Linked DNA regions of Homo sapiens. The protein of the gene in region 1 interacts with the protein of each later gene in a pairwise test. Each region holds a gene or a part of one and is shown in the gene's direction. Other genes may lie near its edges. The genes, in order: CHRM3, JAKMIP1 and SEPTIN3.

Region 1 (3,652 bases):
GGTCCACTTGAGCAATGAATAGAGTATATTGGAGCTTTCCTGTGGCTAAGAAGAAGAAACATGTCATCCTGTTGGCATCACCAAGCACCTAACTCTTTCTAGGTAATAAAAAGTCAACGGTCACTTCAACGTAAATGTTTAAAACCACTCTTTAGTTAAATCTGATGGGAACTGAACAAAGCTCCACCATTGTGTCTGAAATCATTTTACACAGGGAAAAAAAAAAACAATCAGCATAATTGTAAGAATGATTTTTTTGGGCCCACATTCAACCAAAGAACAAGAAAGAAACAGACGATTTTCTAATATGTACACAGCAAACTACAGAATGTCATATTATCCACCTGTGAAACATCTAGTAAGCAATTGCATCTATATTTTATTTCTCAAGTTGGCCTGGCACTAATAAATATGTGAAAGCTTATTCAAGTGTCCCAGTACTTCAGCACTTCCCATCCTTTTGGAAACTCCTATCTTGCCTCCCTCCCAAAAGGGCTGTTTCTTTTATTAAAAAAAAAAAAGAAATAGAATTAAATTTGAGAAAAGGAGAAACCCTGAAATTTAACAGAACTTTGAGAGTCACTTCCAATCTCCTTAAACATGATTATCTCCTTATCCTTGTCCTTTTGTGATGCTAATAATAGCAGAAAAGGAACAAATCCAAGACTCTAGGTCTCCCTTTTTTGTTTTACTGGTTTTATTATAGAATTGTTTTTAAGCCTCTTATGGATGAAAGCTGCATTTAAATACTATCTACTGATTTTATAGAAAGGTATGTCCATTTCTTGGGTCACTTTCAGAGAAAGAAAACAAGCAAAATAGGTTCTTTTGAATATGAATAATTTAAAAGCATAATTGAAGATGTAGTGAGTATTTATAATTGGACCTTAGTTACACGTGCATTTCTCAAAGGGCTTGTCATTACAGGAGATATTCAGCACTTACCTAAGATCAAAATGTCTTCATCCCAAATTGGGAATCGAATTATTTCATGCCATATGCATGAGGTTTGCAGACATTTCAAGATTAGCCACTTTGCTTGAAAGAAGAAAATGATCAAACCTAAAATAAACTACACATGGAGAATCTCTCTCTCTCTCTCTGCCTCTCTCTCTCTCTTTCTCCCTCTTCTTCCTTCTCTCTCTCTCACAAGCACACACACACACACTCAATCTCCATTCTCCAGGCATTGCCAGATGGTTAGGAGAAGTGAGCTCTCTCTGGTCCCCTAGATCCCTCGGCTCTGCTCTCCTTTGCCCATCAGCTCCCTGTGGCCTCTATGCTAGTCCTCCCTATTCTCCTAGTCACCCTTTGCCTCTTAAGCCCAGCCTTGACTCTCTACATATTTTTCATTTCTCTTTACCCTTTAGTGTACAATAGTTGTAGACTCTGACGGAATGAAAACAAACAAGAAGCCTAAGCGTTAGACCCTGCTGTGGCTAAAGATCTAGAAGGCATATCAGTTTTCTCTGTCAGGCTTCCTACGTTGCCCTCGTGCAGGGCTCATTGCTCTGCAGAGCGCTGGAAGCCCCTTCATGTATCGAGAGAGAAGCTGGAGCACAGAGCTCTGATGCACAGTTGGCTGTTTCAGCTCTGACTCAGGGAGGAAAGAAGGATGCCAAGGCTCTGTCACAGCGGAGAAGTCTAATACCAGAGTGGCACAGAGAAGGATTCCAGGGATCAGTCAGGGTGTCCTGTACCTATCTGAGTAGAGATGATTCAAGGATGGGGACATATTCCAGGAAATTGCACAATCTTCCCCTGGCAGCTTCAGAGGACGAGTGAAAATAGTGCAGTATAGTCAAAGAAGCAATGAATTTAGGATGAGGAACCTGAAGTTTCTGGACCAGTTTGGTCACTGCTTAGTTACATGTCCTTAGGAATGCTTGTCACTTAACCTAAACTTTCTGGGTTTTATCCTCATTGCTCAAACTAAGCAACAACACCGAAGCTTCTCTAATTTGCCTTCTGATGCCAAATCGGTCAAAACTGAGGTCAGCAGCTACCATGACGAAAGTAAAATGGTATATTGGGTGAATGTTTGAAAATTTCAGATTTTATATTCTGTAAAGTTATTTACTTACTCTATTTCAACACCACAAAATCTTGAAATTTGGAAGGTAACCAAGGAAGCTTTGAAATTTGTTGGCAAACCCGGAGTAGTATGGTTTCAAATACCACTCCAACCCAGCACCTGAGGTCGGGCAAACTCACAAAATAGAGTTTCTAGGTAGCAGGTGTTTGCTTTGGTTTTGCAATAGCATTTCTCATAACAGAACTGAAACTGTATAGATTACAACACTCCAAAGTTATTTTTTTTTAACCTAAAGAACCCTACTTCTAGCACCTCCTCTGAAAGAATATTTTGCTCCAATACCACGTGCAACAAACTTATTTAGACAGTATCAACTCTAGCCCTTAATAGGTTCAAGGACAAGTTTACTGCTTCCTTTCTACACGCTTAAGTTACACTCTCTTCTCCTGTTCTGATGACTCTAAATCTTCAGCCTCTCCCAGCATTAATGTGTGAGTCAACATTGCAGACCTGAGAAAGGTTTCTAGAATGGTAACCCAATGTTCTTTAGAACTGGAGAATTCCATTTTCCTTTTCTGGCTTTAGTGTTAATGTCTGGGAAGGGAGGCTCATGATAAGAAAATAAAAATGAGAAAAGAAGATCTAGTTCATAAAATGACTATACCCCACGTAAGTTTGTAACTGCACAGTGTTTTGTTGTACGGCTCAGAAATGAGCAAGTGTTAGTATTATTAGGCACACATCACGTTCACAGCTTCGCGCAGAGACGGATAGTGTATTTGGATATATGGAAGTCATCCAAATGCGTTGCTAGAATATCAGGCCTATGTTTGTTCTGGTAGAACCACAGAGACTCACACAAAGTTCTGACCCTACCACTCTGGTCTGGGCTGAGACCACCCCAAAAAATCATCTAGAGAATCAAAGGGGCTCACATCTCAGTTGCATTCTATTTAAAAGATAAAGGGGCCATACTCTCCACTGCAAAGAAGCATTAGTAAAACTTCCCGCACCCAAATTATAATCCGGCAACCCTAGCTTCAGCTAAAAAGATTATCCCCAGAATCTAAAAGCTTACTATTGTTCTTTCTTGGAGTCCAAAATGCTTAGCAGTTCTGCAGTTCACATACAAAACTCAAAACTCTTTTTATCCTGTATTCTGTGAGTTCCTTGATGATAGTAATTGGGTCTTATTCATCACTCTGTATCCTGTGGCTCACACAGAATCTGGCAAATTGCATATATTCAATAAATGTTGAATATCTAATAACCTCCTTATTAATATAACAAATATTATCAACATTCTGTGCACATCAATGTCCCATGCTGCTACTGTAGTCAGGAGTTATTTGGCTGGGAAGTGGAAAGTGTTCACAAACATGATGCTTATCTAATAAAATATCACTGAGCAATAAGGAGAAATATTTTAAATAGATTTGAAGTTGTGAACAAATAATTTAGAGTCCAAAGAGGAAAAAGAAAATTAACTCTGTTTTTTATCCCTAGAACTCAGAAACTTTACTGGATTGGTCAACAAAGACAAACTTTTTATTGTATAAAACAGTAGAATTCATGGAAGGGATAATTCTTTTGGAACAGGCTTCTCGGTTACTTGCC
Region 2 (3,652 bases), on another chromosome or scaffold:
ATTTAAGTTGTTTCTAATTCTTTCCATGAAAATAACACTGGGAGACTACCACTATGCATTCAATTCTCACCATGTGCCTAGGAGACAGGAGCTGCCGTGATTCTCATTTGATAGATGAGGAAACTGAGGCTGAGAACTTGCCCATTGTCATGCAACTAGCAAACAAATGTGTCATCCAGGACACTGGCCTCAGAAGGGGTCCTAACTGGGTTGAGTCTCTGCTCACCTCGGTGCTGTGACCTCGGCCGTCCGTCGTCAAGTTGTCTGAGCCTCTGTGTCTGTTTCCAACCACAGCTGAAACGCTCACGAGAGACCGAGGTTCAGCTGAAGCCCCTGGTGGAGAAGAACAAGCGGATGAACAAGAAGAATGAGGATCTGTTGCAGAGTATCCAGAGGATGGAGGAGAAAATCAAGAACCTCACGCGGGAAAACGTGGAAATGGTGAGCTGTGGACCCCTTGGGGACAGCCCTGACACTCCCTTCTCTGTCTGGGATTCTTCAGCCCTGAACCTCCCGATTCACATGTTCTGGGGCGCACCTGCTGCCCACCTCCCCACAAAGCACCAGGCACAGTGTCAGTCACAGATGTCTCGCCTTTCTCTCCACCTGTCTCACATTCACTGTGCTGTGGGTGTTTGTGCCCAGAGGGAGTCAGACAGCTGTGTCCTTAAACACATCCCCCATTCTCTCTGAGCCTCTGTTTCTTCATGCATAAAATGGGAATGAAAATATCCACACTGGAGGATCATCAAGAGGATGAAATAACAGCATGTAAAGACCTCACAGGGAACGGGCCCAGAGGACACCCAGCAAGTGAAAGCTGTTACAATGATCGCTGGCGATGCTCTGCAGAGGGGTTTCTCCTCCAGCTAGGATGCCTGGTGTTTGTGGTCAGGGCAGGCGTCTTGTAGTTGACAGTTTACAGAATGATTTCAGGTTCATTGTTCAGAGTAGTATCAACCCCCACTTCACAGCCGGGAAGACGGAGGCTCTGTCACCACACATGCTCTGCTGTCTGCACTGTAGCAGATGCAGGTGTGTGTGTGTGTGTGTGTGTGTGTGTGTAATTGCTGTTGTGTGAAGTCCTCTCCTTCCCCTGCCTTCCCCTCCCAGGTTTCTAGGCTCATTTCAAATGTCGTCTTCCACCCCCAGGCCCTGCGCATCCCTTCCTGTCAGCAGTGTGCATGGTCAGCCCCACCTTGGGCTTGGCTTTGGTCTGCCCTGTCCCCTCTTCCAGCACAGGACAAGGTGGCCACGTATTAGTCCATTTTCACACTGCTGATAAAGGCATACCTGAGACTGGGTAATTTGTAAAGAAAAAGAGGTTTAATGGACTCACAGTTTCACGTGGCTGGGGAGGCCTCACAATCATGGCAGAAAGCTAAAGGCACATCTTACTTGGCGGCAGACAAGACAGACTGAGAGCCAAGTAAAAGGGGAAAACCCTTATAAAAACATCAGAGACTTATTCACAACCACGAGAATAGTATGAGAGAAACCGCCACCATGATTCAATGATCTCCCACCTGGCCCCTCCCACAACACACGGGAGTTCTGGGAGCCGCAATTCAAGATGAGATTTGGGTGGGGACACAGCCAAACCATATCAGGCCATCATCTCTTTCATCCTCCCATCCATCCTTCTGTCCCTGCACCCCTGAGCTCCACTCCAGCACTGTCCCTAACAAACACTGTTGGCGGGTAACCCTGTGGTGGTCTGTCTCCCTGTGGCTGCAGAAAGAAAAGCTGTCAGCGCAGGCGTCTCTGAAGCGGCATACCTCCTTGAATGACCTCAGCCTGACGAGGGATGAGCAGGAGATCGAGTTCCTGAGGCTGCAGGTGCTGGAGCAGCAGCACGTCATTGACGACCTCTCACTGGTACATCTAGCACAGCTGGCGCGGCTGCCCCTGGCAGGGGTGGCACCAGCTGACATGGGTGTCAGGAACGGGTGTTGGGGCTCAGGGTGATGCTGCTGAGCTGGGTCAGGGTCAGGCAGTGCTGACTTTGGGACTCACCAAGCTCACCCTGGTGTGCACATTCCCGCTTCATTCTGCCACTAAGCAGCCTTGGCTTAAATGAGATCACTGGTACTTGGGGACAGTTTCCATGGCTACCCTTTTCTCACATCTTCTCCCTAGCTTGCTGTGATTGAGAAGCATCAGTTTTAAGGATGTCTTTTGGCCTTTAGAGACTGGGCATGATCTGTTCCAGAGAAGGCTTTTTGTTTGTTTGGTTGGTTGGTTGGTTGGTTTTTAGCTTAGCAGTTGCAGACTGTGAGTTTAGGCCCACAAACTTGAACCTTATAACCAGACCAGCACCTTGCTAAGACTGCCTGTGTGAGTTTTGGACGTGTATATGGGGCGTGCATCTATCAAAGGGGGTTGAGTATGTCCTAAGCGGTGGAGAATTGCATCCAGAGAATTCCACAGCTCTCTGTGAAAGGAACTTCGGCAACAGGCAGAGAACACCTGCAGGGAGCTTTAGTTGGATCTTAGAAGTAGAACGTGTTCTGCTCACCAAAGTGGGTGTGTGATGGTTCCATGCACTGGTTTTCAAAGAATAGAAAAGCTAGTGATCAAAATTCTAGAAAAGGCTTTGATTATAATTTTCATGTTCATTTTGCCTGCCTCCATCTCCCTCTACCTCTTTAACTTCTCTCTTTCTTCCTTTCACCCATCCATCCATCCATCCATCCACCCACCCATCTGTCCACCCATCCATCCATCCACTCACCCATTCTTTCATCCTTCCATCCACTTATCTATGCATACATCTATCTATCCATCCATCTTTGCTTCATTACACAAAAGACTCAATGCAGCTTAGGATGAAAAATATATTTCAGTGAAATAACAATAAAGTCAAAAGGTGGATAATAAACTCTCCCTGTAGCTCTCAGTTCAGAGAAGCAGCCATCACTTGGGCACTTAGAACTTCAACTAGCCATGCCTGGTGCGGATGGGCAGGCCCAGCTCCCTTTGAGAGCCAGTGGCTTTGGTTTGTGAGATGTGAGGCTGGCTGGAAATGCCAACCGTTGTGTTTCCTTCTAGGAGAGAGAACGGCTGTTGCGCTCCAAAAGGCATCGAGGGAAAAGTCTGAAACCGCCCAAGGTGAGCCTGCGATGGTGCACCTGCCCTACCTTGCCGCTGTGTCACGGATCTGCAGGGCAGATGGGTCGTGGAGTGGGGAGGTTTTACAGAGGGGTCCTGAAGCAGACACACACATCTCTGCATGCCTGATGATGAAAAGCCTGTCATCACCGTCTCTCAAAGCAACATAAATATGGCCGTGTCATGTGACCCAGTTATTGTAATTTATTCATGGAAAACTTCCTGATGTATTCTCCACTTAGGCTTCAGGGTATATTCACCCAAAATTAAAAACATAAATACTTAAACCTTTTGAAGGATTTAAGGGACATTCAGGGTTGGTTTATATGAGAGCATATCCTGTTCTAAAAAAATCAGGAGCTTTGTGTTTTTTTGGAATCATGCAGAACTGTAGTCTTTTTTGGAAAATATAGGTCTTTTGCTATTTCCTAGTAACAGTGTCTGAAGGAGCTGGGCTTATAAAATTCAAATGCCCACAGGGACCAATCTGGAATGTAAAGAGCGCACTGGAGCTGATACCAAAAAAAAAAAAAAAAGCATA
Region 3 (3,652 bases), on another chromosome or scaffold:
AGCTCTGGGCTGCCTTCTTCCCACCCTCCAAACCTACCTGTGAAGACCACTGAATACATGTATCACTGTGTACATAAGAAATCACTCCTCCAACGTTAGCCTAATTGAAGGGCTAGACTAATTAGTGAGTCAACTGGCCACTAGTCCTCACTGGCATCTTCTCTTTGTTTTTTTTTTGGAGTCTCTCTCTGTCGCCCAGGCTGGAGTGCAGTGGCGTGATCTCGGCTCACTGCAAGCTCCGCCTTACGGGTTCACGCCATTCTCCTGCCTCAGCCTCCTGAGTAGCTAGGACTACAGGCACCCACCACCACGCCTGGCTAATTTTGTTTTTCTCTTTTTAGTAGAGATGGGGTTTCACTGTGTTAGCCAGGATGGTCTCGGCTAGTCTTGATCTCCTGACCTCGTGATCTGCCCGCCTCGGCCTCCCAAAGTGCTGGGATTACAGGCGTGAGCCACCGTGCCCAGCCCTCACTGGCATGTTCTATAAGCTCAGCCCTGTGCTGGATGTACAGGGTTGGGGAGGGGCGATTTGAGAGAAATGAAAAGACAATTGCTGCCTTTAAGAAATTTACAATCCAGTTGGGCGTGGTGGCTCATGCCTGTAATCCCAGCACTTTGGGAGGCAGAGGCGGGTGAATCACGAAGTCAGGAGATCAAGACCATCCTGGCTAACACGGTGAAACCCCGTCTCTACTAAAAATACAAAAAAATTAGCCGGGTGTGGTGGCGGGTGCCTGTAGTCCCAGCTACTCAGGAGGCTGAGGCAGGAGAATGGCATGAACCCGAGAGGCGGCGCTTGCAGTGAGCTGAGATCGTGCTACTGTACTCCAGCCTGGGCGACAAAGTGACACTCTATCTCAAAAAAAAAAAAAAAAAAAAAAAGAAACTTACAATTGGCTGGGGGCGGTGGCTCACGCCTGTAATCCCAGCACTTTGGGAGGCCAAGGCGGGTGGATCACCTAAGGTCAGGAGTTCGAGACCAGCCTGGCCAACATGGTGAAACCCCATTTCTACTAAAAATACAAAAATTAGCTGGGCGTGGTGGCATATGCCTGTAAGCCCAGCTACTAGGGAGGCTGAGGCAGGAGAATCACTGGAACCCGGGAGGTGGAGGTTGTAGTGAGCCAAGATCGCACCACGGTACTCCAGCCTGGGCAACAGAGCAAGACTCGGTCTCAAACAAACAAACAAACAACAAACAAACAAAACTTATAATCAAATAGAAAATGAAGAGGTCCTGGATGGTTTCCTGGAGAAGGCAAGACTTAAGTCGACCTTGAAAGAGGGCAAACAGTCTCGGAGTAGGGGGAGCCTCACCTTTCTTCCTTCCAATCAGGAATATAACATGCAGGGGTCTGAGCACTCCCCAGTGGGCTCACCTGTGCTGCTTGTGTAAATCCCAGTCTCGCGGACCCTGAGATGAGCAAGCTGGTTGCGAGGCGCCTGGGACCTGAAGTTGCACCTCCTGGCCTCTTCCTCCTCTCAGGCTAGGTTGTAATTGTATAGCTGGGGCTTGCATTTATTCACCATCTTCCTGCTGCTCAGGGTCTCAGAGTTCAGAGATGACTGTGGATTATCCAAGGCTGGATTTGGCTCTCTGACCTCAGCTCACGCACACAGGTGCACACACCCCTCTTTTCCATTACCCTGACACTTGACTACCTTGTTTCTTCTCCTCGCCTCTAGGTTCGCAAGGAGCTTGAAGTAAATGGCATTGAATTCTACCCCCAGAAGGAATTTGATGAGGATTTGGAGGATAAGACGGAGAATGACAAAATCAGGGTGGGTGCCTGGGGCACTGCTCCTCCACTGATGCCCCCTTGCGACCTCTGGGATGTGTATTGTGCACGTCCTCTGTCTGTCTTTTCCCTTTCTGTACTCCCCCCAACCTTGCCTGACCCAGACCAGAAGTGACATAGGGGGATGGGGAGGACTATGGCCCTGGACTGTGAACCCACAGAAGGGCTCCCTGTACCCAGAAAGCCTTCTATCCCCAGACCACATAAAAGCCTCCTTTTCCCCAACAAGGTCTGGCAAAAACAGTATTTGGGGTGATGGGAGGGGCAGCAGGCAGGAAGAGCATCAGGCTGGGGTCCAGGAGGATCTATGCTGTGGTCAGACCCTGCCTTAGTTTCCCCTCTATGAAATGCAGGGGTTAGACTGAGTGGCTTATAGGCTTCCCCCGCTAGAATAACTTAAAAAAATTAAATTGGCTGGGCGTGGTGACTCATGCCTGTATCCCAGCACTTTGGGAGGCCTAGGTGGGAGAATCGCTTGAGCCCAGGAGTTCACGACCAGCCTGGGCAACATGGCAAAAACTTATCTCTACAAAACCTGCAAAAATTAGCCAGGCATGGTGGCGCATGCCTGTAATCCCAGCTACTCGGGAGGCTGAGGCAGGAGAATTGCTTGAAGCCAGGAGGTGGAGGTTGCAGTGAGTTGAAATTGTGCCATTGCACTCCAGCCTGGGCAACAAGAGCGAACTCTGTCTCAAAAAAGAAAGTACAAAGCGCTCTGCAGCTGAAGGAGAGCTGATTCCTGAGGTTAACCAGTGAGGCAGTGGTACAATTGGGACTAGACCCAGGACTCTTCAATCTCAGTCGGGTGCTCTTTTCAAGAGACTGAGCCTTGCCCTTGCCATCAGTAGTATCTCTGAATGAGCATCAGAAGTGTGTGGTTCAAGGCTAGAGGACCATATGCCATCCTGCTCCTGAAAGTCCAGGTTGTTGGAGGATGACGGTGCACATGTGTCTGGTTTGTGTTTCTGCCCCGTGCAGCAGGAGAGCATGCCTTTTGCTGTGGTGGGAAGTGACAAGGAGTACCAAGTGAATGGCAAGAGGGTCCTCGGCCGAAAAACTCCATGGGGGATCATCGAAGGTAATTCACTGCATCTTCTGGAAGAACTGGTTGCTGATCAGTTATCCAGTCACCATTTATTAAGCATCTATAGGTCAAGGCACTGTCTCAGGACATATGAAATGAATGCCAGCCAGATTCTGCCCATAAGGAGCTTACAGTCTCATTGAGAAGACGATGCTCACAGGCAGGAGTAACAAGAGACTGATTTAGCACCTGACTGGGTGGCACTGACTTAGCGCATCAAAGGAGTTCAGAACATGGAGAGATTAGTAAGGCCTGGAAAAACTGGAGAAAGGTTTTCATAGGAAGGGGGATGTGATCTGACAAACTGCCGGAGGGTTGTTCAGGTGTTGCCATTTCCATTTTATTATGAATGGATGTGACCCTGGGCGGGTCTTGATGATTCTGAAAGTGGTCAAAGAATCACTTTAATGATTTCATTCAATATGATAACCCTATGAAGGGAGGAGAGCGGGTGCTCCTGTTCTCAGAGTATAAGCTACCAAAGCACCGGAAGCTCAGGTTAAAAGCCTTGTCCAAAGCACATAACTTGTTAGTGGTGAAACTTGATTTCAGACTCAGATTTTTTTTTTTTTTGAGACGGAGTCTCACTCTGTCATCCAGGCTGGAGTGCAGTGGCGCAATCTCAGCTCACTGCAACCTCTGCCTCCCAGGTTCAAGTAATTCTTCTGCCTTAGTCTCCCAAGTATCTGGGACTACAGGTGCGGACCCCGATTTTTGTATTTTTTATTTATCCCCAAAAATTAGCCCAGCTAATTTTTGTATTTTTCGT

What was found.
Region 2: the proteins of CHRM3 (region 1) and JAKMIP1 interact in a two-hybrid assay, tested with the Homo sapiens proteins (one large-scale study listed by BioGRID and IntAct).
Region 3: the proteins of CHRM3 (region 1) and SEPTIN3 interact in a two-hybrid assay, tested with the Homo sapiens proteins (one large-scale study listed by BioGRID and IntAct).

What each region holds. Positions count from the first base shown.
Region 1 is NC_000001.11:239,911,039-239,914,690, forward strand, and holds part of CHRM3 (muscarinic acetylcholine receptor M3), read left to right. Parts: 3' UTR 1-3,652.
Region 2 is NC_000004.12:6,078,398-6,082,049, reverse strand, and holds part of JAKMIP1 (janus kinase and microtubule-interacting protein 1), read left to right. Parts: intron 1-294; coding exon 295-441; intron 442-1,737; coding exon 1,738-1,878; intron 1,879-3,051; coding exon 3,052-3,111; intron 3,112-3,652. UniProt on the Homo sapiens protein: Associates with microtubules and may play a role in the microtubule-dependent transport of the GABA-B receptor. May play a role in JAK1 signaling and regulate microtubule cytoskeleton rearrangements.
Region 3 is NC_000022.11:41,989,887-41,993,538, forward strand, and holds part of SEPTIN3 (neuronal-specific septin-3), read left to right. Parts: intron 1-1,686; coding exon 1,687-1,782; intron 1,783-2,777; coding exon 2,778-2,877; intron 2,878-3,652. UniProt on the Homo sapiens protein: Filament-forming cytoskeletal GTPase. May play a role in cytokinesis.